2 linked regions of the Homo sapiens genome follow. The protein of the gene in region 1 interacts with the protein of each later gene in a biochemical or structural test. Each region holds a gene or a part of one and is shown on either strand. Other genes may lie near its edges.

Region 1 (10,906 bases):
CACCAGCTTCTGTGCCTACTCACAGAGCAGGGCTGGGGGCCTGGGACAGGACTTGCCCACGGTCCCAAGGGCTGAATTAGAAGCCCTCGTTCCTCAGTGCTGCCCATCCCCTGGCCCCAGGACAGCCCATCCTCAGGTGATTCACAGACTCCAAGGGAGGCACAGTCGGGGACTCGTAGGAGGCTTGGGGTGGCTGGAGCTGGATTCTCAGGCTCCGACACCAGGAGCCCTGCGGACCATGGGGTTTGCAGGAGCAGAACTGGGGACCTGAGTTCCTTCCTGGGTTGTGCCCCCGAGTTTGGGGGGCCCACAGCACTTACATGCCACGCACTGAGCCTTGGGGTGAAGGTCGGGGGACCCGGCCTGAGCACAGCCACCAGTGGTCACCTAGGGTCCCTCGCATTTAGACAGCTCAGGGGTGACAATTCAGTGGGGGGACGTCAGGCTCTGGGGAGCAGATAAGGGGGCCTTTGGTCTGAGACAGACTGGTTCTCAGCCCTGGCATGGCCTGCTCGGTCACACGGGCTCCTCTTCCGAGCCTGTGAGGCCCCCATCACACCACAGGTGGGCCCGGAGGAACTGAAATAGCCAGAGCCGGGGTGGGAGTCCCTGAGGGGGAGCAACCAAGCGACCAAGGCGGGGGGCGGGGCCGGGCCTGGGAGGGGCACAGCATGAGGCCGGGGGTCCTGCCTCCATTCCCTGGGCACGCCTTCCGTCTGTCCCCCTGATTCTCATATAGCCCCCAAGGTCAACATCACCAAATGCTATTTTACAAATAACAAAACTGAGGCCCACAGGGGAAGTGACTTGGCCAAGGCCACGCAGCAGGGGAGAGGCAGAGCCTGTTTGGTCAGTCAGGACTCTGAGGCCTGGAGTTTTTGGCTCACTGGTCAAGGGGGTCCTGGCCCACCAATTTTTGCCTCCAGTCCTCTTTGTCACTGGACTCCAGCTTGAGGGGACATCTCTCCTGTGAGGGGACATCTCTCCTGTCAGTCCTGGAGCAGGTTCCAATGTCAGCTCAATCCTTCAGGGGTACTTGAGAGAAAAAATTGGGCACGGGGTACCAAAGGCCCAGGGCGGGCCAATACAGGGGCATCAACTCCAGCAGTGATATTTTGCCAAGAGTAGCTGGGATTGGCCTCCTAGGGCCCAGGCCTGAGGCCCCACCCTCACAGGTGGCCTCTGCACCCCCATCTCCACCCCCGCTTTGTCCACCAGGCCAGGCTGGCTGAGCCTCTTCCTTCCTGCCCCTGCAGCCTGGGCCAGGTCAGCAGACCCAGGGGTGAACGGAAGCAGGTGGCTGACTCAGGAAAACTTTCGCTCAACACAAAACAAAACAGGCCGGGCGCAGTGGTTCACGCCTGTAATCCCAGCACTTTGGGAGGCTGAAGAGGGTGGACCACCTGAGGTCAGGAGTTCAAGACTAGCCTGGCCAACATGGCGAAACCCCGTCTCTACTAAAAATACAAAAAAATTAGCCAAGTATGGTGGCACACTCTCATAATCCCCAACTTTCTCAGGAGGCTGAGGCAGGAGAATCACTTGAACCCGGGAGCTGGAGGCTGCAGTGAGCCGAGATCGCGCCATTGCACTCCAGCCTGGGCAACAGAGTGAGACTCCGTCTCAAAAAAACAAAACAACTCCCCCAACCTAAGGAGAAAATGAGGGCCTGTAGGCCACATACCACAGCCATGGATTCCAGGAGGATGCCCTGAAGCCTGGGGCTCCAGAACATTCTGTCTGCTTCTGACTCTCTCTGTGGCCTTGGCCTCAGTGTCCTCCCTCGTCTGTCCAATGGGTGCATTTATGGCCTGCCCTGCATGCAGCAGTGCGGACACTGGGTGGAATACGTCTCATGCAGTCCCTGCTTCGTTTTGTCTCCTTGTCATCTGCACTCAGAGGACTCAGGAATGTCCCATTGGTTACATTAGCTAATTTCTTTTTCTTTTTTCTTTTTTTTTTTCTTTTTGAGATGGAGTCTCACTCTGTCACCAGGCTGGAGTGCAGTGGCGCAATCTCAGCTCACTGCAACCTCTGCCTCCTGGGTTCAAGCGATTCTCCTGCCTCAGCCTCCCGAGTAGCTGGGACTACAGGTGTGTGCCACCACGCCCAGCTAAATTTTTGTATTTTTAGTAGAGATGGGGTTTCACCATGTTGGCCAGGCTGGTCTCGATCTCTTGACCTCACGTTAACTGATTTCTTACTGTGAACATTGTTTGAAAGCCCCAGACCCTCTGAGACCCGGGAATTCTCACAAGGGAGAGAGGCCAACTCCTCCCTGGAGGAGTATCACTGCTCAAGGTGAGAGGCAGAACTTGGCCTGCCCCTGAGCCTTTGCCCACATGGTGCCCTCCACCCAGGCTGCCGCCCCACTTTACCATCCCAGCCCGATGCAGTTGCTGCTTGATAGTTGTTTACTGAGCACCTACTGTGTGCCAGGCACCCCACGACAGAGCAGGGAACAAGAAGCTCACATTCTAGTAGGCAGAGACAGACCATAAACAAGGGAAGAAACAAATAAGCAAGGTAGTTTAATGGAGCAGTAAGCGCTGTGAAAAATGGACATCAGGTGACAGATGGAGAATGTCTGGTTGGGTGGGAGCAGGGAGATTGTCAACACGGGACAGGTGGGGTGGTCCAGAAAGGCCTCTCTGAAGAAGTGACATGGAAGCTGAGACCCGAATTACAAGAAGGAACCAGCGGTAAGAAAATGTGGGGAACAGTGTCCAAGACGGACGGAACAGCCAGTGCCAAGGCTCTGAGGTGGGGCCAAGCTCTGTCCCTGAAACAGAAAGGAGGCCAGGGTGTCTGGAGCTGAGGGAGGGAGGAGCAGATGTCATAAGATGTACGGGGGAGGACCAGGCTCTGAGTCATGGCCACTGCATGGAGACTGGGCTGGGGAGCAGGGATTGTTGCGGGGAGGCCTTGGGAGCCACCACGCAAGCCCAGGTAAGTGACAATGGAGGCCTGGGCTGGAGGAGGGGCTTCGGGTAGGTTTTGCCAGAGTTGCCGACAAGACAATGACAGGCAGCAGAAAGTAGGTTCAGGGAGCCCAGGGCTGGCTGTGTTGGGTCTGGACCGTCGCCCTTTCCCATGGAGATGTCAAGGTGACATGGGCTTCCTGAGTCTGGGTCTCATCATCCAGGCTGCTCGTGCAGAGATGGGAGTGAAGCCACTAACCACATGCCCCTCCAGCTGGCAACAGCATGGGGGTGCGTGCACCCAGAAACGCCTGGCCTATCAGGGAGGGAGGCTTTGTCCCAGGGAGGTGATGTTTGGGGCCATTTGTCCAGGGTGAGTCCATGAGCCAGAGTTTTCATCCAAGACCAAAGTTCAGATTTCAAGAACGGGCTTCATCGCCCACTCTCCCAGGCTGGACTCAATCTGTAGGCAGGCAGTGCCATGGCAGGGGCTGGCCCACAGGGAGCACTGGAAAATACTTGCTAGACGAGAGGACAGGATGGTCGCGGAGCTCAGCTTCCACCCCAGCCACTTGATCCCTCCAAGCCTGGCTCAACGCCTCCCGCGCACCCCATTCCTATTTCATCACTGCCCCACTCCCTCCCAACACCACACTTGGGTCTAGAGACCTCGAAGTGCTCTCAGATGAGAAACCAAGACTTGGATCCCCGCAGAGGGTCATGCCTTGGGCTCACAGCCCCAGTGCTCAGCCTGGCCCTGTCCCCATCTGGCCACATGTCCACGAGGCCGACAGCCAGCACTGCAGTGACCCCAGGTGCCAGCACCAGCACCCCAGCATAGAGAAGAAGGAATTGCTCCTCCTCCTCTGGACCCCAACCCCCAGCCCAGCCTGTTCAGACCAAGCGCAAGTTCCACAGCCAAAGGGACACGGGTTCAAAACTGACTCCATACCGAGCAGGTCATGTTGCCTCCCTGTGCCTCAGTTTAGTCACCTGTGAAATGGGGGTGCCAGTCCCCATTGCTTAAATGGTACATGAGGTGTGCTGCTGAGTTCGGGGCCTGGCTATAGCAGGGTGATGGCACAGGGAGCTCTCCCGTCTTGTGCTTGAAGCTTGTGGCCAAGGGCAGCGCCCAGGGCTCAGCGCAGAGGAGCATCCAGTCTAACACCCATTGCTCCAGTGGGGAAACTGAGGCCCAGGGAAGGGCAGTCACTTCCCTAGTGTGGTTTACTGGCAGTTCCAGTGCACACGTCTTGGCATGGCCACTCCCAGAATCCTGGGCATGGCTTTCATATGCAAACTTTTAAGCAAGGACATTTCCAGAGACACATTCCACAGGCCCAACTGTCTAGACCGTCTTGGAAGGCTGCAACATCTGTCAAAAGCGGCCCAGACAAGGAGAAATGAACGGTGGTATGACTCTATTTTCCCTTTTCTCCACACTACTGGGAAGCTCATCCTTGACACTTTCATCTTAGCTATTTTAGCCCTACTAGGTTAGCATGTGTACTTATTTCTTTCCTAAGACCTTCTCTCTCTCCCTCTTTCTCGCTCTGTTCTCCATTCCCATACTCTGTCTCTCTCTCTAGCTCTCATTCTCTCCCTCTCTCAACAATTTTCTTTTCAAACTTTTTCCTGGAAAACTGGGGGTTGAACTAACTCCTGCCAGACACTGTGGTAATATCTCATCGAATCCTCACAACAGCCCCAAAGGAGGGTCATTAGTTATCTCCCCATTTCCTAGATGGAGAATCTGAGGCTCCGAGGGAAAAGGTGGCTTGTCCAGAGTCACACAGCCAATAACTGGAGAGGCTGGGCCTGTCTTCCAGGGGCCACAGTCTGCTTGGGACAGTCCCAGGTCCCTGGTTCCTAAATCCACCCCCACCCCGTGTGGGGCCAACTCAGCAGGCTCCAGCCCCCCTACCTTGAGTGTGTCTCCCTTGTTGAAGGCCAGCTCGTCGCTCTCTGTAGCCTGAAAGCTGTACAGGGCCACGGACTCCATGCCGCTGCTCGGGGCTCCAGCAGCTGGGCTCAGAGCTGGGCCGACAGCTTCCTGCTTCCTCTGCAGTCGAGGACGGTCTTCCTTTGTTTTGAGTGCGCGTTTGTTCTTTTGAAGTTGAGACTGAAACTGCTCCTGATGGGGGAGAAACAGGAAACAGACATGTCACAGAGCAGGGAGGGCTTGTGAGCCAGCTCTGTCCCTACCTCAGACCCCAGGTGCCAGGAATGGCCCTTGGGGAGTCTCCCTGAAGCTCTGGGAGTGGGGCCCCCTTGTGCCCATGTTTTATCATCCGTAAAAGTGAGGTGCCTGGAGGAGAAGTGCCAAAGCTGTCCTGCTGGCTCAGGCACTGAGTCTCATGGCACCAGATGCTGGCCTCCCTTCACCAATCTGCCAATGACTCTCCATCTTTTCCTAAACCCTGATGCCTCTTGTGATGCCCTGCCTCCTGCTCCTTCAATCCCAAGCTCCTCACCTGGCATTCAAGGCCCTTGCAATCCACCACCTCCACCTGCCCCTACAAACAGCCCCCATTCTCATCCTTTGTCATCCCCTTCACTCTAAACAAACCCAGGGCTTCAGCCACAGCAAGGGGCCACACCAAACTCTCATTTCAACCCCAGACTTTTGCACACGTGGTTCCTCTGCCTGGTGTTCTCCTCTTTCTGCTCCCAGGAGACTCCTATTCATCCATCAAAGACCAGCTCAGAAGGTACCTCTTCTGGTTTAGACACTGGGCACCTTAGGTGGGACTTAAATCCTAAGGTCAACAAGACTTGTAGGTCGGGCGCGATGGCTCATGCCTATAATCCCAGCACTTTGAGAGGCCAAGATGGGCGGATCACTGGAGGTCAGGAGTTCGAGATCAGCCTGGCCAACATGGTGAAGCCTCATCTCTAATAAAAATACAAAAAATTAGCCTGGCATGGTGGCATGTGCCTGTAATCCCAGCTACTGGGAAGGCTGAGGCACAAGAATCGCTTGAACCCGGGAGGCAGAGGCTGCAGTGAGCCAAGGATCCATCCAGGCTCCAAGCAATCCTCCCACCTCAGCCTCCAGAGTAGCTCGGACTACAGGTGCCCACCACCATGTCTGGCTAATTATTTGTATTTTTAGTAGAGATGGGTTTTCACCATGTTACCAAGGCTGGTCTTGAATTCCTGGACTCAAGCGATCCTCCTGCCTGAGATTGCGCCATTGCACTCCAGCCTGGGTGACAGAGCGAGTCTCCTTCTCAAAAAAAAAAAAAAAAAAAAGAGAATTGTAAATAAATCTCTACCTTTCCTTAGTGGGTTTGTTATGAGCAGTGTTATCGGTGTAGCAATTCTGAAACTGTTTTGCAAGTGTTGCAGGATAGCGCACAAATGGACAAGCACAGCTGTATTGTTTGGAACCAGGGTTCTCCCTGGGAAAGAAGGGAGACACAGACGTGGAAGGAAAACCAGGCAGAGCCCTGTGGTGTTGCATGGACACTGGATGAATCAGTGTGAAGTCACATTGTTTTTTTTCTGTAAAGAAGTTTTTCTTCCTTCATTTATATTAATATAGGCTCATGGTTTCATATTTTAGCCAGTGGATTATAATCCATTACTATTACATTTATTTTGATGCTTAAAATGCCCCTGATTAGGCCAGTGGGGTCTCCTTCAAGCTGTCTCCTTATCCTTTTGACATGGACCCATCATTCTATGAACACACCCTGACCTTCTGGCCAATAATAGAAGAATCGCTTGAACCTGGGAGATGGAAGTTGCAGTGAGCCGAGATCGCACCATTGCACTCTAGCCTGGGTGACACATCAAGACTCCATCTCAAAAAAAAAAAAAAAAATAGTTGAGAGGGAAGAAGAGAAGATGACAGCTGCCCGCCGCCCACTCTGGAGTCCCTGAGCCAACCAGGCAGGATGGAGCTGGCCCTGGCCTCACCCAGCTCCATTCCAGGGCTTCTCCACGCTGCCCTCTACTCAAAGACCCCTGCCTTCTGGCTGCCCCCGACCCCAAGGGTGACAGGATGTTATAAGGCCCCTCTTTCCGGCTCTGTTGCAGCTGAGGTTTCAAAGCCTCAGAATGATGCAATGGAGGGGTTGGGATCGGCCCCCGCCTCAGTTCTGAGGTGCTTCTAGCCATATGAGGGGAGGAGGACTTCCCCTTATGAAGCTGAATGGGTGTCCCCTGGGGCGGTGGGACAGATGCCGGGTTTATTTTTATGTGTTTTAGAAGTATTTATTCTCTGCCAAGTCCTTTACAAAGAGGTAAGTGACCAATAGTTGGTAGGTGGCAGGGCTGGGGTTCAAACCCAGGCAGGCCTGAGGGCCAAACCATGCCTACAACTCCTTCGCCGCATGGCCTCAACCCGAAGGATTCCTGCCCAAGGTGGCTCGGGCCAGAGCTGGGAGCCTGGGCTGCCTACTGTACAGTGAGCTCAAGGAGTGCAGTGAGGTAAGCAGCAAAGCTTTGTTGGAGGGTAAATCTGCCCTGATTCCGGGAGACCAGAGAGGACCCCACAAATGGGACTTGACTGAGAGGACCCTTGAAGAATGCAGCACCCCAAATGAGGCAGACGCTGGGGCCTGGAACGAGGGGCCATCGGAAACTGGAGGCTTGGGCCAGGCGCGGTGGCTCATGCCTGTAATCCCAGCACTTTGGGAGGTCAAGGCAGGCAGATCACTTGAGGCCAGGAGTTCGAGACCAGCCTGACCAACATGGTGAAACCCTGTCTCTACCAAAAATACAAAATTAGGCTGGGCACGGTGGCTCACATCTGCAATCCCAGCACTTTGGGAGGCCGAGGCAGGTGGATCACCTGAGGTTAGGAGTTTGAGACCAGCCTGGCCAACATAGTGAAACCCCGTCTCTACTAAAAATAAAAAATTAGCTAGGCGTGGTGGCGAGTGCCTATAATCCCAGCTATTTGGGAGGCTGAGGCAGGAGAATCACTTGAACCCAGGAGACGGAAGTTGCAGTGAGCCAAGATCATGCCACTGCACTCCAGCCTGGGCGACAAGAGTGAAACTCCATCTCAAAAAATGTATATACAAAATTAGCCGGGAGTGGTGGCGCACGCCTGTAATCCCAGCTACTTGGGAAGCTGAGGCAGGAGAATTGCTTGAACCCAGGAGGCGGAGGTTGCAGTGAGCCGAGATCACCCCATTATACTCCAGCCTGGGCAACAAAAGAGAAACCCTATCTCAAAAAAAAAAAAAAACAAAAAAACAACAAAATAAGGAGTTTTGGAAACCAAGGTTTTATTATGCAGATGAAGCCTCCAGGTAGCTGGCTTCAGAGAGAATATAGTGTAAATGTTTCTTATCAGACTGAAAGAGTCCGTTCTAACAGTAATTCCAAAAGCGAGGAGGTTATAACAAGGCATGTCCAGCTCCCCCTTCCCATCATATCCTGAACTCATTTTCAGGTTAACTTTGGAATGCCCTTGCCGAGAGAAGGAGTCCATTTGGATGGTTAAGGGGCTTAGGATTTTGGTTTTGGTTTATGGAGGTCCCTCAAAAGCTGCTCACAGGAGGAAAACTCATCACTGGCCACAGGCCACACCAGGCCAGGGCAGACCCAGCCACTGTCTCAGTGCTGAAACCCTAACCCCCTGTGATCAGCTGAGTAACAGCCCCGAAGACATCCAGGTCCTGATCTCAAGAACTTGGAACGTTCCCTTATATGACAAGAGGGACTTTGCCGGTGCGATTATGTTAAGGGTCGTGAGATTGGATGGAAACTGCAATTTCAATGCAGTTTGAGTTCTGTAATTAGTAGACTGGGCTAGACTACTGGACCCTGGAACACTCCAAACAGGCTGATTGGGGAACTTTTTATCATCAGAGATTGGCTGAAACACCTGAGAGAACTCCCTGAAAAAAAATTTTTTTGAGACAGAGTTTTGCTTTTGTTGCCTGAACTAGAGTGCAGTGGCATGATCTCAGCTCACTGCAACCTCCGCCTCCCTGTGTCTACTTGAAATACAAAAATTGGCCAGGCATGGTGGCGCACGCCTGTAGTCCCAGCTACTTGGAAATAGAATCACTTGAACCTGGGAGGTGGAGATTGCAGTGAGCAGAGATCGTGCCACTGCACTCCAGCCTGGGTGACAGAGGGAGACTCTGTCTCAGAAAAAAAAAAAAAAAAGAAAGAAAGAAAGAAAAGAAAATGAAGAAACAGGCCAGGCATGGTGGCTCACACCTGTAATCCCAGCACTTTGGGAAGCTGGAGCAGGAGGAATGCTTGAACCCAGGAGTTCAAGACCAGCCTGGACAACATAGTGAGAACCCATCTCTACAAAAATAAACAACAACAAAAATAGGCCAGGCATGGTGGCTCTCACCTGTAATCCCAGCTACTCAGGAGGCTGAGGTGGGAGGATCGTTTCGGTCCTGGATTTCAAGGTGATAGTGAGCTATGATCACACCATTGTACTCCTGCCTCTGAGGACAGAGCGAGACTTTGTCTGGAAAAAAAAAAAGAAAATGCAAATGAAGAAACATGGATTCATGAACATCTATGAATATTTGGTTTAAAAAGGTGAGGCCATGGTGTTTGCACTGAGATCATGGCCCCTCTTGCCCTTCCTCTCAGCTCAGTGAGGCTGAGACTCCACTCTGGACAGCTGCAGCCAAGAACATGGGGTCCCCTGCTGCCTCCAGACCAGGGAAACAGGGCTCCCTCTGCCCCCAGCTCCCAGTGGGAGGGCTTGCCTCCCACGAAGAACAGGACATCCATTTCCTATTCTACCCCCAGCCACCTGTTGCTGAGACTAAGTCCTGGATGAGTGTAGCCAAGAGTTGGGGGCCCCCTTCTTGCACCCAGCCCCACTCAAGGAACAGAGGCTCTGCCTTGGGTGCAGTGTGCTGCGAGTGCTGGGGTCCTGATCACTCCGGCCCTGGCTCATGTGGAAGTAGCTCGACAACAGGAGAGGCAAACTTTGAGGACCTCGGCCATTGTCCCCACTCCCACCAAGTCCTCAGCCCCTAGCGCAGGGTGTCACTCAGAGAGAAGCTTTCCAAAGTCTCCACCCCCAGCTCCAGGGCCCTGGCTCAGAGAGATTTTTGTCTAATGAAGAAACAGGCCATAAAAAAGAGACTTCCTAATCTCTTCCCAAAGCAACTGACCTCATTTGCTACAGAGAACGAAGGAATTCAAGGCAAAAGTTGCTTTTGTTTTGATTTTGGTTAGGTTTGTTTGAGAGTGCAGTGATGCGATCTCCGCTCACTGCAACCTCCGCCTCCTGGGTTCAAGCGATTCTCCTGCCTCGGCCTCCCGAGTAGCTGGGATTACAGGTGCCTACCACCACACCCAGCTAATTTTTTTTTTTTAAGTAGAGACGGGGTTTGCACCATGTTGACCAGGCTGGTCTCGAACTCCCGACCTCAGGTGATCCGCCCACCTCAGCCTCCCAAAGTGCTGGGATTACAGGCGTGAGCCACCGCACCCGGCCCAAAAGGTGCTTTTGAGAATAGTAGAGATTATGGTGAGAGATAATTAGGAGAAGATTCAAGACACAAGCTGAACTCTAGGCTGCTCGTTTACAGGAGAGAACAGGGAATAGCACCAGTAGAGGGAGCCCTCCTGAGGTCAGAACAAATAGCAGACATTGACCTCACACACTATTTCTTCCAAGGAGCCAAACTTGATAGGATCAGTGTGTAGTGCAGGGCATTATAGGAAATTATAAAGCAATCCATTGGCAACTTGCAGAGCTTATTTCAACCAAGCAAGGATTAGAAAAAGAAGGGCTGGGTGCAGTGGCTCATGCCTAAAATCCCAACACTTTGGGAGGCTGAGGTGGGTGGATCACTAGGTCAGGAGTTCAAGACCAGCCTGGCCAAGACGGTCAAACCCCGTCTCTACTAAAAAACAAAAAATACAATAATTAGCCGGGCGTGGTGGCAGGTGCCTGTAATCCCAACTACTTGGGAGGCTGAGTCAGAGGATTGCTTGAACCCGGGAGGCGGAGGTTGCAGTGAGCCGAGATTGTGCCACTG
Region 2 (10,593 bases), on another chromosome or scaffold:
GGTTAATATTAATTTGCATACTACAATTTAAAACAGGCGCCTAAGCCTACTGGTTCTCAAATATACACCAAATGAGGCAAACATTTCACTTCTCTAAAAATAAGTTTCCAATTTGAAGCCTTAGTTGAAGTTCCCATCAAGGATGTCTGTGATGTTTGCAGAAAGTATTTCAGTTGAAAGAAACAAAGATGTGTAAAATGAGCTGTTTCTGGAGATCCACGATAAAGTTGACAGCCTTATATCATGTCTTCCAATAATCCCCATAAATGTTGCTTCACCACATCATGAATTGTTCATGAGAAAATTTCTTACCCAAGTTAATTAGTTGCCTGTTACTTCTAAACTACAGTTTAAACATTCATAGCACCAAAAAATTTTTCAACTAGTAGCGCTCAGAACACAGGTCATTTTAGGTTTTCACTCACTTTCCAGTCTTGTCCCAGCTGGCTGCTCCTTGTGGCTGATTTTCCCACTATGCCACAGTTTGTGCCTTCATTATTTCCATAATAACGTTACAGAGAGTGTGTGAAGCCCTGCTGTAAACAGAAGTGAACCAGAGGATTCACGTAGGAAGCTTGATAATAGTAGAATCTTTGAAAGCAGTAACTTCTCTCTGTAAAACCAGCAGTCATGCTTGGCTCCAAATACTAATGTCACTTAGAAATTCAGGTTAAAAGAGGCTTGCTTGTTTTATGTTACTCCACATAAGGCTGCTTTTTTGATAAGCAGTGTTAATATATGGGATTGTATTGGGACTAAGTAGTCTGATCCACTGAAGCTGAATATTAATGGCCATGACCACCCTTGGGTATTTTTATGGGAGGCAGAATTAATCTATATATCTCACCTTCTTTCTAACCTTTTCTTATGTGCTTTTAGGGCCCACCCTGGTCATTACAGAATATTGTTGCTATGGTGATCTTTTGAATTTTTTGAGAAGAAAACGTGATTCATTTATTTGTTCAAAGCAGGAAGATCATGCAGAAGCTGCACTTTATAAGAATCTTCTGCATTCAAAGGAGTCTTCCTGGTAAGACTGATTTACATAAATAGTTAGCTGTTGACAGGCAGTTCATGGGGTCATAAGGGTTTGCAATCAAGGCTGATTCTTTAAAAAATGAACTGAGGTACTCTGAGGTATGAAATCAAAATTATTAAATCATTTAAATGTGATTAACAGTTTAGAAAGTTAAATTGTGTTTTTAAAGATTCAAACCTAGATTTTTGCTGATTTTTTAAAAATGTATTTTCAGTTTTCTTCTACACTTTAGTTCCATGCAACTGAATGCATTCTATATCTGTTTCTCTTACGGTTCTGTCCTGCATGTATTTCCATTTATACTATTGAGCTTGGTACTACATGCATGTTTCCAGTGAGATACTGTTTATAGGGAAAATGCTAAAGCCTCTCAAGTTGCCACAGTAAAGTCCCTTTAAAACCTTTAGCAGAATGACAAAGAGCTCTGAACATATCTCCACATGTAGGCTTCTTGCCATCGACCTCTGGATTATTCCTGTATACCTTGCCTCTTGCCCTTTTTATTTCATCATGCTATTAAAAGACATAACTACTCCAGCACATTTTTTAAAAATTCTGGACATTATTCTCATCTCTTTCATCATTGATGCCATTCTGAATTTGAATCATGTATAAAGAGCTTTGAGTTTGACTTACAACCAGAAAAGAATTCTTCTCATATCTTGCCTATTCTTTCTTTGGAAATGCTCTTAAGGGCCACCATTTGAGAAGACTTCCTAGATGTACCCAGTCCAACAGAAGTCATGGTTATTTTGCCCAGTCCCCTATACTGTATATTGCTGCAGTTGTGTGGTAGATTTCTCCTATCCTTTTCATGCACTTTATATCCACTGCATCTTGCAATGGCAAGACATTGCCTCCTGAACTCTTAACACCAGGTCCTCAAGGAGACCTCAGTAAATATTATTGATGGGCAATTACCCCTTAAAGCCATTTTCTGTACCTCTGGCTAAAGTTTAAAACCCCAGGTGAAACTTTTTATTTTTTTTTAATCCTATAAACTTGAGTAGTTTAAAGTGGTAGTAGAAACTGTACAAAACCACTTTTTGTTAGTTTCTCCTGGGCATGTGCTCATTATATGAAGAAATGAGCCATTTTGCTTCTTTCCGAAACCTTGGCCCTATATATATCCTTTAACTTTCTGATATAATGGCCTAAATTGTTCAATCCTGTGTGATGTTCTTTGTGCTTTGGGATCCCATATGGGATTGGAACCACCAGCACACTCTGAAGGAGATTGTTGTCATGGTGTTTCTATGCTAATCAGAAGCAGGAAGTACTAGAAATCTTGAAGAGTCTCCAGCCAAATGTTGCAGATTGAAGAGGTCCAGATGGTTCAGAAAATCATCCAAATTATTGGTGTTTATCTGAACCAACTTGATTTTTTTTTAAACCTTCCTCCATCAGTCACTATATGTTAACGATCTCTGCCTCCTGCATAACACGTCTTGGAAGCTCTTCTTTGTCTTTCTTTCATCTTGTCTCCTGGGGCTCATTTAGAGAGTTTGAGGTAATACGGGATACCATATTTGGCTCTCTGTCTCCCATTAAATTCATTGTGTCAAGAGACGGGAAATTTCTAACCTGAGTCCTCTATATGATTATACACAAAAAGGACACCTAGTTTCTGGGCATGGACCCCAATATCGATTATTAAAAACTCATTTCTTACAGAACAGGATTTTCAAACTCTTTATTCAAACTTTACATGACTTTCCTCAAATTGGTCCAGTCTATTATGTAGCAAAGGGGATGAGGAGGTAGAGCATGACCCATGAGTGCCCTTCTACATGTCCCACTTGATTCAGTCATGACTTGTTTCATCTCTCCCAGCAGCGATAGTACTAATGAGTACATGGACATGAAACCTGGAGTTTCTTATGTTGTCCCAACCAAGGCCGACAAAAGGAGATCTGTGAGAATAGGTGAGTACCTACCTATCAAGCAACCAAGAGTAACTTTACAGAGAGTATGTATATCATGCTAATGTGGAATATAACATCATTCCCAGTAGCAATGATGCAGACCAGTTCTGCTTTATGGTAGCAGTGCCAATGGTCAATGGCAGTTAGGGTTGCAAGTGGGTGTTTGGGGTCAGAGCATATGTTTTTGTGCCTGAGTATCTTTCTATAGATATGGGATCTTTGCTTTAATTCGCCATCCCTCTCCTCTATGGATTTTGTAACCCAGCCTAGGATTGTTAAATATTAACTTTGTGATTCAGCATCTACCTTTCCTGGACACCAGGGAAGTGATCTGCCTGCAAGTTCACATTAGTTCATTCATTACCAGCCTTTGGTATGTCATTGCCACTGTCTTTTCCTTTCCTGACCTTTATGGTTGTAATTGCTAAGAAAAATCCTCTCTTCCTCACAGGCTCATACATAGAAAGAGATGTGACTCCCGCCATCATGGAGGATGACGAGTTGGCCCTAGACTTAGAAGACTTGCTGAGCTTTTCTTACCAGGTGGCAAAGGGCATGGCTTTCCTCGCCTCCAAGAATGTAAGTGGGAGTGATTCTCTAAAGAGTTTTGTGTTTTGTTTTTTTGATTTTTTTTTTTTTTTTTTTTTTTTTGAGAACAGAGCATTTTAGAGCCATAGTTAAAATGCAGAATGTCATTTTGAAGTGTGGTAACCAAAAGCAGAGGAAATTTAGTTTCTTCATGTTCCAACTGCTGTCTCTTTGGAATTCCTGTTCTAATTTATAAGCTGTAAAGTACAAGCCTGTCTAAATGAGTTTTTCTATGAATATTCTTTTATATGCAGTGAAATTCTTTTAAAACTTTTGGCTTTTAGGATATAGGATATGTTCCTAGAGAACAGAATCATTTTATCAGTAAAAGCAGAGGGCACCTCATAGTTACAAGGCTTGGGGTGAAGCATAGACTTGAGTTTTATTGAAGTTAGATCCAAATATTATATGTGTGGCTTATGAAGTGTCAGGAAATAAGGGGTCAGAGGGAGTAATAAACACTTGGGAGAAGGTTAGGAATGGAAAGAATGATGGAACCAAAACAAGGAGCATGGTCTGTGGAAGGGTGAAAGGAGTTCCTTAGGAAGTAAGATTAACCGAACAGAATGAGTTACCAGTCCTACCCTTAAATGTCATGGGTGACATTTCCCAACAATTACCAAACTAAGAAAGGATATAAGATGGCTGAAATAAAGACCTTCTTCCGTGTGTCCTTGGGAGATGTCAGATTGAATTTGCAAAGGCATATTAGGAACTCTGTGAAAGGACATTCAAAGAGATGCATGCAAAATGAATTTTCAGTTTAAACAATATGATATGACTATTTCTTATGTATTTCCCTATGAATGAAAGCAGTCCTGAGAAGAAAACAGCATTTATTAGAATTGCTTTTAAAAGAGATTATAATAATTAGACTCTTGATTATGTGAACATCATTCAAGGCGTACTTTTGATTTTTATTTTTGGTGTACTGAATACTTTAAAACAAAAGTATTGGATTTTTTATAATATAAGCAACACTATAGTATTAAAAAGTTAGTTTTCACTCTTTACAAGTTAAAATGAATTTAAATGGTTTTCTTTTCTCCTCCAACCTAATAGTGTATTCACAGAGACTTGGCAGCCAGAAATATCCTCCTTACTCATGGTCGGATCACAAAGATTTGTGATTTTGGTCTAGCCAGAGACATCAAGAATGATTCTAATTATGTGGTTAAAGGAAACGTGAGTACCCATTCTCTGCTTGACAGTCCTGCAAAGGATTTTTAGTTTCAACTTTCGATAAAAATTGTTTCCTGTGATTTTCATAATGTAAATCCTGTCTAGGGATATCACACATTTTAGCAGTCAAATTAAGTATACTTCAGCAAAATTTGCATGGTATGCTGAACATTACTACAACTAACATTCAATAATAGAAGTCCTAATTCTAATTGTGTAATTTTGGGGCATGTGAAGGAAACAGAAATAGCCTTAATTTTCATTATAGCCTGAGAATAGCAATGAACTTGATTTTGCTCAAGTGTAACAAATGTAGGTCATTGAAGGTCACAGCAGGAGAAATTTTGGGGGGATTGGCATGCCGTGTGAAAAATATTAAAATCTAAGATCATATTCAGAGTTAGCCATATAGAATGTTGGATCCTAGAATACACGGAGAGCTATTAAATAGGTTCATAAGTAATAATGGGTTTGTAGAACATAGCAAATGTTTTTCAAAGTGCTGTATTTCCTTGCCAATTTTTATTGAATCCTCAGAACAAACCCTTGTCCTATAATTGCAGCACCTTCCTATTTTAAAAGTTGGAGAAACTAAGGCATGGCATATTTTAGTGCTTTTTATCTGAGGTGACACAGGACAATAGAGGCTGAAACTAGAGCCTGTGATTTCCAGAGTGGCATCCCATCGCCATGGAAAACCATATTGCCCTTTATAATATTCTCTGCCTGTCTTCCTGGGCCCATTTCTGCAGTCCAGATTTATTCCTGGAGGTGGATTTTTGTGCCCCTTATGATAATGTAATGTTTTCCCCCCATCACTGTGGCGTCTCTATTGGTAGCCTGTACTCGATTTGGTTTTGTAAGAGTGTTTCTGTGTTTATCTCCTGGCCAAAGCATGAATTTCTGAAAAGGCTGCCCTGAAGCTAGATATTATCATCAGGAGTGATAATAAAAACAACTTCTCTTCATCCTGGTGCAATTTTGGAAGGAAGAATGATAAGTCGTTAATTATCCAGTCCTCTGAATATTGACCAAAGGGAGGAGGAAGAAGGTGGCCGCCTCCAGGCCCAGTCTTGATGAATTCTGCAATCTGTCTCCATTATTTCATGCCTGTGTAATTTTGTCAAGAGTTGTCCAATACCTCTGAATCTTTGTTTTTCTCCCCTTGGGAATAATAGTGATTCCTGACTCAGAAAGTTATGAGTTAATATATGTAAAGTGCTTATGACAGTGCCAGACATATTGTTACTATTCTTTATAGATGTCTTATTTACGATCTAAATAATCGTGACGGTGGTTACATACTGTCTTGTTATTGGTTAGTGACCTTAGTTTGAAATGACAAAGAGGGGTTGGCTCTATCAGGCTTCCAGATTGTAGACTCCAGTTCAAGTCAGTTGAACTAACCAATCACAGATCTCGCTTTCACCAGGCTAGTGGGTAAGGAGAATTTCTGGAACAAGATAAGAAGAAGGAAACTCATATATGTTACCGCCCCACATTTTTGTCATCATCATTTGAGATCTCCTTGTTGTGTCAGGTTCTCTGAAGTTCTTTCCTTTCACATGAGTTCTTCATTGTTTTTCATGTCATGGCCCCTTTTAGAGCCTGGTAAAGCCTATGGGACCCTTATCAGAACACTGTTTTCAACGCCTATGATGAAATACATAGGAATACCAAGGAAAACAGTTAAATCGAAATAGCTATGAAGATACTAAGTAAATTTGTGATATGTCAGTACATGTGTTTACTATAGAGTGTAACAGGCTCTGTTAGGTTGGTGTAAAAGTAATTGTGGGTTTTGCTATTTTTTCTAAAAACCACTGTAATTTTAGAGTGGTGATTAATGTAAATATGATTTTGAGATACCTATAAAGACTTAATAGGATATGAAGATATTTATGATTACTGTTCATGACAAAGTCACAGGTACAGCTGATACTACTGCGTTTTATCACCTTTGTTAGTAATTTAAAGAAATGCTAAATTTCATCTAGAAATTAGCGAAAATAAGGATGTCATTTTTCCTTTCCAAGTTCACAGGCCCCTGAATTTGACACCCATAGATCTCAGGTTAGGAGCCCTTATAGGAACTTTAGCACAACATCTAGGAAGGGAAGGGATATTGGAAGTTTTTTGTTTTGTTTTTGTAAGCTGACTAAAATAACTTTAACACCAAAAAAAAAAAAGAAAAAAAAAAAAAGCTTTCCCAGTTTTCAATCCTAAATGGATTAAGAGAAGGATTGATTTAGCTTTTTATGGCAGATTAAGATTGGGAATCCAGAATGCATCTAAAAGGACTAGTTACAGAAAGTTTAGCTCAACTTTAATGGAGAGAGTTCTCCAAAGAGTCAGGATCACAAGCCACTACTGTTTATCAAGTACTTGCCTTTCTTCTAGGCAATTTTTCAGATAGCACTGAGTCAGGCGGTGCTAAGCATTTTTACCCATTTTATCTTATTTAACCCACAAGACAATTCATAAAATTAAAAGTATTCATTTTGTTTTACAGAAGAAGATACTGAGGCTTAATTACAAATATTTTAGTGACTTTCCCAGTGTATTAGAGAAAGTTTTGGGTTTTGACAGAAAACCCAAAATAAAAGAAGTCTAGGAGTAGACTTTATACCAGGATTGGTATAAAGGTTCCATGGAGTACCCGGGCAAGTCTTTCCTTTCCATGCTTAGCCATTCCTGAGTGTAACCCCCATGTCCATGGTCCAAGATGACCACCAGGTGGATAGCCAGCCATCATATCCAGAAGGCAGGGGGCCCTTGCACTAGAGAAGAGAGGGCAGAGGGCACGTGCCAGCTATATTGTAAGGAGGTTTTCCTGAAGCTGCTATACAGCACTTACAACTTAGTGGCCAAAACCGAGTCACCTAACTACAGCTAGCTAGCTGCAAAGGAGGCTGGGAAATGTAGTCCTAATTGTGAGAGGCCGTGTTTCTGTTTTTAAGGAAGGAGAGGGACATATTCAGTGGAAACTAACAAATCTCTGCATTACCTAAGGCCCATGGTGGAGCCAGGGCTAAAATGTCTGGCTGTCTCTGACGTTTGTGCTCTTAATCTCCATGCCGTACTGACATAGTGCTCACATCTTAAAATGGGGATAATGCACTTGTGAGCCATGTATTTCAGAGGTGATTGGGATCATCTGAGTTCATATAGGTAAAAGGTTTTTGTGAGATGGTACTCAAGTTATCACTCCACATTTCAGCAACAGCAGCATCTATAAGAATATCTTCTGTTCAATTTTGTTGAGCTTCTGAATTAACATTATTGACTCTGTTGTGCTTCTATTACAGGCTCGACTACCTGTGAAGTGGATGGCACCTGAAAGCATTTTCAACTGTGTATACACGTTTGAAAGTGACGTCTGGTCCTATGGGATTTTTCTTTGGGAGCTGTTCTCTTTAGGTAAAATGATCCTTGCCAAAGACAACTTCATTAGACTCAGAGCATCTTCTTGAAGTTTCATTGGTGTCCTGCTTCCTTGTGATTAACACTGCTTTGCAAACTGTGTCTCAGGAAGCAGCCCCTATCCTGGAATGCCGGTCGATTCTAAGTTCTACAAGATGATCAAGGAAGGCTTCCGGATGCTCAGCCCTGAACACGCACCTGCTGAAATGTAAGAGCCAAAAAATTTTTCCTTTAGGTCACGTTTTCCCTTTTATTTTTCTTTTTAGAGACAGAAACCCAGATGTTGAGGGTTTTCATAACACAGTTTGAAATGTCACTTGGATTCTTTATGACACACTGGTCAAATGTCATTTCTGTAGTTTATTTTCATAATCTCTTGTCACCAAAAATACAGAAAGTTTCAGTAATATTTCATACATGCAGTGTTTTATGTTATCTATATGTCAGTCCATATGTCCAGTTGCATAGCCCTGGAATTATTACTGAAGTTGCTGGATGCCCATACATTTGAAAACAAGCTGAGGGCATTGAGGAGGGATAGTAAATGGCCCTTGTCTTGCAGGTATGACATAATGAAGACTTGCTGGGATGCAGATCCCCTAAAAAGACCAACATTCAAGCAAATTGTTCAGCTAATTGAGAAGCAGATTTCAGAGAGCACCAATCATGTGAGTATACCCTGGCCAGGCATAGAATCCCCCTTCTCCCAGTTCCAGGTGTGTCCTCCTCCTCAGGCTTTCAGGGTGAGGACTAACCTCCCAACCCCTTCTCTCCTAATCTTAGGTTGCAAATTGGGCTTCAGGTAGGGGAAGTAAAGCAATGGAAACTAGTTCTTTCTGCCCAGCCCTCCTGTTCTGAGCCAAAGAAGGATGTGAGATTGAGGGGGAAGGGTGGAGAGTTTTGTACTCACTGGAAGTAGAAGTTTCCATAAGGATTTGCCATGTTTCCTCCCTCATCTCAAATGCTGGTCACGGGGTCAGTATTTTCTCCCTCTCACATGTCAGGGCCATGCATCCTTTGGAGGGTTGGGGTGATGTGAACTAGAATAAAAGCATAGAAAAGACAGCTTGTTACTGCAGTGAAATAAGCCTTCTGATCAAACAAGCATAGCCAGAAAATGGCAGATAGCTGTCATGCCCACAAGCCATATAGAATGAAGAGCTGTTTGAAGTTGGGAGATCCCTCCCAGTGATTTGGGAAGTGTGGGGGAATGAAAACTCAAATCCATTATTTCCTCTCTTTTTAAGCAAGAATTAGTGATACTTTGACTCAGATTTTTTTAAGCTGCTTTCTTTCCTGGGCTGTGTGCTTGGAGCTATCTTTTCTTTCCTAATAGCACACCACTGATAATTTTTGGGTTAAAGCTTGTTCTTCTGGGTGTCAAAACATGTTTCAAATTGAACAGCATTTTCCACCCAGTTGCTTTGATTCTTGACAAGAGACCCCTGGAAGGGCCGTGGGTTTCCCAGCAAATTACATTGGTTATTGGGTTGTAGTTGCTGGAGAGATTTACAAGCCTTTTAAATAGGTAAGATAGTGCTTGGTGCCTGGTGTGCCCTTTTAGAAGAGCTAAGCTTGTGCATGTTTTGTCCCCACTTCTTGTATAAAGTTATTTCCTTGGAAAAATGAAGGGGGAAAACAAAGCTTATATTTGTTTTGTCAGTATGACTTGGGTTTTGGCCACAAAGTTCTTGGAAACCACTTCTCTCTTAAGAGTTTCCATCAGTTAGTTGTGATCTTGACACTGTAAGTATGCCTTTTGTTGCTATGTTCGTTGTAGGGACTGCTGTATTGACTATGGGCTTGTTTTCTCCAGATTTACTCCAACTTAGCAAACTGCAGCCCCAACCGACAGAAGCCCGTGGTAGACCATTCTGTGCGGATCAATTCTGTCGGCAGCACCGCTTCCTCCTCCCAGCCTCTGCTTGTGCACGACGATGTCTGAGCAGAATCAGTGTTTGGGTCACCCCTCCAGGAATGATCTCTTCTTTTGGCTTCCATGATGGTTATTTTCTTTTCTTTCAACTTGCATCCAACTCCAGGATAGTGGGCACCCCACTGCAATCCTGTCTTTCTGAGCACACTTTAGTGGCCGATGATTTTTGTCATCAGCCACCATCCTATTGCAAAGGTTCCAACTGTATATATTCCCAATAGCAACGTAGCTTCTACCATGAACAGAAAACATTCTGATTTGGAAAAAGAGAGGGAGGTATGGACTGGGGGCCAGAGTCCTTTCCAAGGCTTCTCCAATTCTGCCCAAAAATATGGTTGATAGTTTACCTGAATAAATGGTAGTAATCACAGTTGGCCTTCAGAACCATCCATAGTAGTATGATGATACAAGATTAGAAGCTGAAAACCTAAGTCCTTTATGTGGAAAACAGAACATCATTAGAACAAAGGACAGAGTATGAACACCTGGGCTTAAGAAAT

What was found.
Region 2: the proteins of GRAP (region 1) and KIT form a complex in vitro, tested with the Homo sapiens proteins (one study listed by BioGRID).

Annotation. Positions count from the first base shown.
Region 1 is NC_000017.11:19,042,004-19,052,909, forward strand, and holds the start of GRAP (GRB2-related adapter protein), read right to left. Parts: upstream 4,955-10,906; 5' UTR 4,924-4,954; coding exon 4,846-4,923; intron 1-4,845. UniProt on the Homo sapiens protein: Couples signals from receptor and cytoplasmic tyrosine kinases to the Ras signaling pathway. Plays a role in the inner ear and in hearing.
Region 2 is NC_000004.12:54,728,456-54,739,048, forward strand, and holds part of KIT (mast/stem cell growth factor receptor Kit isoform 1 precursor), read left to right. Parts: intron 1-879; coding exon 880-1,030; intron 1,031-2,872; coding exon 2,873-2,964; intron 2,965-3,415; coding exon 3,416-3,543; intron 3,544-4,614; coding exon 4,615-4,737; intron 4,738-8,042; coding exon 8,043-8,154; intron 8,155-8,265; coding exon 8,266-8,365; intron 8,366-8,719; coding exon 8,720-8,825; intron 8,826-9,973; coding exon 9,974-10,102; 3' UTR 10,103-10,593. UniProt on the Homo sapiens protein: Tyrosine-protein kinase that acts as a cell-surface receptor for the cytokine KITLG/SCF and plays an essential role in the regulation of cell survival and proliferation, hematopoiesis, stem cell maintenance, gametogenesis, mast cell development, migration and function, and in melanogenesis.